2 separate regions of the Homo sapiens genome follow, and region 1 is linked to region 2. A link means that fine-mapping ties the variant in region 2 to the expression of a gene that starts in the linked region. Tissue or cell type: whole blood. Region 2 holds a variant in brackets; the other region holds the start of a gene. All regions are shown on one strand. Distances are from middle to middle.

The links. PIP is the estimated chance that this variant, and not a neighbour inherited with it, causes the effect.
Region 1: it holds the start of ZNF117, and the variant in region 2 is fine-mapped to the expression of ZNF117 in whole blood (INTERVAL, PIP 0.91).

Annotation. Positions count from the first base shown.
Region 1 is chr7:64,989,517-64,992,204 of GRCh38, reverse strand. ZNF117 (zinc finger protein 117) reads left to right here and starts at 1,169. Exons shown (of 4, transcript NM_015852.5): 1 at 1,169-2,258. The region is part of intron 1 of ERV3-1-ZNF117 (ERV3-1-ZNF117 readthrough); the gene reads left to right. It overlaps ERV3-1 (endogenous retrovirus group 3 member 1, envelope), which reads left to right. Exons shown (of 2, transcript NM_001007253.4): 2 at 1-1,849. The coding sequence ends at 993.
Region 2 is chr7:64,740,077-64,742,764 of GRCh38, reverse strand. No RefSeq gene overlaps it. Among named protein-coding and RNA genes, the nearest start is that of ZNF138, 53 kb to the left of the region's middle. The variant TAAAA/A (reference allele first, on the strand shown) is at 1,418.

The DNA.
Region 1 (2,688 bases), 250 kb before region 2:
TTATTCGCCCAACTGGCTGAAAACATAGCCAGCAGCCTGCACGTTGCTTCATGTTATGTCTGTGGGGGAATGAACATGGGAGACCAATGGCCATGGGAAGCAAGGGAACTAATGCCCCAAGATAATTTCACACTAACCGCCTCTTCCCTCGAACCTGCACCATCAAGTCAGAGCATCTGGTTCTTAAAAACCTCCATTATTGGAAAATTCTGTATTGCTCGCTGGGGAAAGGCCTTTACAGACCCAGTAGGAGAGTTAACTTGCCTAGGACAACAATATTACAACGAGACACTAGGAAAGACTTTATGGAGGGGCAAAAGCAATAATTCTGAATCACCACACCCAAGCCCATTCTCTCGTTTCCCATCTTTAAACCATTCTTGGTACCAACTTGAAGCTCCAAATACCTGGCAGGCACCCTCTGGCCTCTACTGGATCTGTGGGCCACAAGCATATCGACAACTGCCAGCTAAATGGTCAGGGGCCTGTGTACTGGGGACAATTAGGCCGTCCTTCTTCCTAATGCCCCTAAAACAGGGAGAAGCCTTAGGATACCCCATCTATGATGAAACTAAAAGGAAAAGCAAAAGAGGCATAACTATAGGAGATTGGAAGGACAATGAATGGCCTCCTGAAAGAATAATTCAATATTATGGCCCAGCCACCTGGGCAGAAGATGGAATGTGGGGATACCGCACCCCAGTTTACATGCTTAACCGCATTATAAGATTGCAGGCAGTACTAGAAATCATTACCAATGAAACTGCAGGGGCCTTGAATCTGCTTGCCCAGCAAGCCACAAAAATGAGAAATGTCATTTATCAAAATAGACTGGCCTTAGACTACCTCCTAGCCCAGGAAGAGGGAGTATGCGGAAAGTTCAACCTTACTAACTGCTGCCTGGAACTTGATGACGAAGGAAAGGTCATCAAAGAAATAACTGCTAAAATCCAAAAGTTAGCTCACATCCCAGTTCAGACTTGGAAAGGATAGTCTCCAGATTCCCTTTTCAGAGGTTGGTTCTCATCCCTTGGAGGATTTAAAACCTTAGTACAAATAGTCCTAGCCATATTGGGAGTTTGCCTTATACTCCCTTGTCTCTTACCCCTCATTGTCAAAAATATCCAAACAGCCATAGAGGCTCTTGTGGACAGACGGACTACCACACGACTAATGGCCCTAACTAAGTATTAACCCCTGCCAAGAAAAGAGCTACTTCCTCTTGAAGTAAATGAAGATAGTGATGCTTTCTCTTAAACTTTACTTATAAAAAGCATCAAAGGGGGGAATGAAGCAGGAAATATAAAAGGAAAAACAAGTAAAGGGAAAACAAGTCCTTTCCTGACCAGTCTGACTCACTCCAAAGTCCTGCTGGAGCTATGATAATTATCTGCAAGGCCAGGCAGGGGCTCCGAAGGAGTGGGCTCCAGGAGCAGGGATGAGAAAAACAAGTTCTCCTTATCAGTTTCCCTGTTTGAAATTCTCTCCCCATAACATTATTCTTTGTTCTGCTCTCACAACTATTTTTGTAACTATTTCTGCAAGTCTGTAAAGATTTTGTAAGTTCTTGTTTTTCTTTCTGTAGCATGGCAAGGTCACAAGACATGTTTAAGTAAGGTAGGCTCATGTTGCAAATCCTGTTGTAAAACCTGTCACGGTATGATTAACTGCCTTTGTTCTGCTTCTGTAAGACTGCTTTCTCACCTCGCAGGTTTTGCGCCAAAAACCCGACTTGCCCCTGCCTGATGCATGTATAAAAGTCAAGCCCTGTCTTTGTTCAGGGCTCAGCCTTTGGATGTTAATCCGCTGGGCCAGTGGCCACCTAAATAAAACCTTCCTGTTGCACCCAGTGATCTCTCCGGCCTCCTGATTCCCACAACATATAAGCATTCCTTTTTCTCTGCAACCTAGCCCGCATCTGTCATTGACTTTTTAACAATAGGCATTCTGACTGGATGAGATGGTATCTCACTGTGGTTTTTCTCTGCATTTTTCTAATAATTAACAACGTGAATTTTGTTTTCATATGCTTGTCAGCCACATGTATGTCTTCTTTTGAAAAGTATCTGTTCATGTTTTTGCTTACTTTTTAATTAGGTTTTTGGTTTTCTTTTTGTTGTTGTTGTTGTTTTCTGAGATGGAGTCTTGCTGTGTCACCAGGATGGAGTGCAGTGGCATGATCTCGACTCACTGCAACCTCCACCTCCCAGGTTCAGATGATTCTTCTGCTTCAGTCTCCTGAGTAGCTGGGATCACAGGTGCGTGACACAAAACCCAGCTAATTTTTGTATTTTTATTAGAGATGGGGTTTCACCATGTTGGCCAGGATGGTCTGGATCTCTTGACCTCATGATCCATCTGCCTCAGCTTCCCAAAGTGCTGGGATTACAAGCATGAGCCACAGATCCTGGCTTATTCTTCTTCTTCTTTTTTTTTAAAATAAATTTGTTTAAGTTTCTTATGGATGCTAGATTTTAGACCTTTGTCAGAAGCATAGTTTGCAAATATTTTCTTCTAGTCTGTAGGTTGTCTGTTTATTCAGTTGATTGTTTCCATTGCTGCAAAATAGCTCTTTAGTTTAATTAGGTCCCATTTGTCAATTTTTGCTTCTGTTGCAATTGCTTTTGGTATCTTCATCATAAAATCTTTGCCAGTTTTTATGTCTTAGAATTTTCTAGGTTATTTTCT
Region 2 (2,688 bases):
CCAGCATACTGTAGGGTTTAGAAAATAAGGATAATTAGATAATAAATAATCCCTCATATAAATCAGGTAGTATAAGTTGCTACTACATTCTGGAAGAAGGCTTGCCAATGCCTACACAAGCTGAAGATACAAATATATTTCAATTATATTTGTGGTTATAAAGTGGCATCATTTGTCTGGGGTAATACCCCAGGTTCCTTGCCTCATGCCAAGGAAATCAAGGACACGGACATGCAAGGAGTGAGTTTAAGAGGGAAATTTTAATAAACAAGAGAGAAAAGCCCCCTCATGCAGAAGCAGAGGGTTCTGAACAGATCTCTTCATTCATGGCAAGATGCATTTGGTTTTATAGATGTGCTTGAGGAGGTGGTGTCTGATTTACATAGGGCACAGAGGATTTGTTGGACCAGGTGTGCCAATTACATAGTGTGTGAAGAAGCTTGCCATAGCACCCTAATCTTTTAATATGCAGATGAATTCTCTACCTGGTGGGTGCCATGTTACCTATTCTCTGACTTCACACATGTTGACAAAGAAAGAGGAAGATCATATCTTTCTTCATCTTCTATCTGCATCCTCCTCTTCTGTGAATAAATTTAAAAAGAGATGCCAAGAAGACACATCTGTTTCCTATTCACACATCACTTCAACTCACTATCAGTCAATGTAAGTAGAGCTGATTGATTATAGCAATTTCCTGGCAGGACACTTCTCAGCAATAAATAACACACTGAAAGAAAAGTATAGGCTGGGTGCAGTGGCTCATGCCTGTAATCCCAGCACTTTGGGAGGCCAAGGTGGGCGGATCATGAGGTCAGGAATTCAAGACCAGCCTGGCCAACATAGTGAAACCTCATCTCTACTGAAAATACAAAAAAAAAAAAATCAGTTGGGTATGGTGGCAAGCACCTGTAGTCCCAGCTACTTGGGAGGCTGAGGCAGGAGAATTGCTTGAACCCAGGAGGTGGAGGTTGCAGGGAGCCGAGATCGTGCCACTGCACTCCAGCCTTGGCAACACAGTGAGGTTCTGTCTCAAAGAAAAGTAAAGTATAGATTTTTCGTAAAAAGCTAATGTATTTTTAGCGAAGTAAGCATATGCATCAATAACAAAATGCTTCCTGCCAGGCACGGTGGCTCCTGCCTGTAATCCCAGCACTTTGGGAGGCCAAGACAGATGGATCACCTGAGGTCAGGAGTTCGAGACCAGCCTGGCCAACATGGTGAAACCTCGTCTCTACTAAAAATACAAAAATTAGCTGGGTGTGGTGGCACCACCTGTAGTCCCAGCTAGTCGGGAGGCTGAGGCAGGAGAATGGCTGCAACCCAGTAGGCAGAGGCTGCAGTGAACCGAAATTGCACCACTGCACTCCAGCCTGGGCAACACAACGAGACTTTGTCTCAGAAATAAATAAATAAA[TAAAA/A]ATAAAATGCTTGTGGTAAAATATAGATTCATTTTGTTGATTTCTATTGAGCTCAGGTAATATTTGACCAAAAGCTAGCAAATATACCACAGAAAAAGGAATATTTTAAATAAGAATATGGTGAATGAAGTTATCCTATCAATAGAAGTAAAAATATTGGCCAGGCGCGGTGGCTCACACCTGTAATCCCAGCACTTTGGGAAGCCGAGGCGTGTGGATCATGAGGTCAGAAGTTCTAAGACCAGCTTGGCCAACATGGTGAAACCCTGTCTCTACTAAAAACTACAAAAATTTACTGGGCACAGTGGCAGGCATCTGTCATCCCAGCTACTCAGGAGTCTGAGTCAGGAGAATCACTTGAACCCGCGTGGCTGAGGTTGCAGTGAGATATTGTGCCACTGCACTCCAGCCTGGGTGACAGAGTGAGACTCAGTCTCAAAAAAAAAAAAAAAGAAGTAACAATATTATAACCTCATACTAATAGTCTCATCTATAGTTATACAACATCAAATGCTTCTTTTTATTAAAAAGTATATTTCATATGATTATTCAATGTATATCACCCCCCTTCATTATTTCAATGCCTTCTCCACTTTATATCCCTGCAAAACAGGCCAGCTGTTTCTAGGAAAGCACATGGTGCTATTGCTATTTTAATGATGATATTGGAGAGCACTTGTTTGGGTGGTAATTCCATGGCAAACACTGCTATTTGGCCCAAAGTACTGGTTTTCTATTCTTCTCTAAATTTATGGATAAAATAAAATTCTTAGCTAAGAAGACTTTATCTTATTCAAGTACGTATTATGGAATTTTGTTGACACTTAAGTGTTTCTGACTTACCTGGAATATTGAAATTTCCCATGAATTCAAATTGAACACTGTAAAGAAACAATCCTTTACTAAAAGCGTTTTTGAGGCAGAGTAAGATTCATAAAATTTCTTTATAATATGGAAACAATTGTGTTAATGACGTTCCTAGTAATCCCTCTGAACATAGCATTCTCAATTCTCAGTATTCACCCTGAATCACTCAGGGAAAATTGGTATCTCTGCGAGCAGGCAGAAGAAGGTGCTGAGTAGAGGTGCATCACATTGCACATAAATGCTGTCCACATGCACCTATTAGAGTCTTAATTTAATGGACTGTTATTTGCATGGCTAGATACTTACTAAATCTAGTCATATTATTTTTGGCAGCTAACGGTATCTGTTACCCATTAATTTTTTTTTTTTTTGAGACAGAGTCTTGCTCTGTCACCCAGGC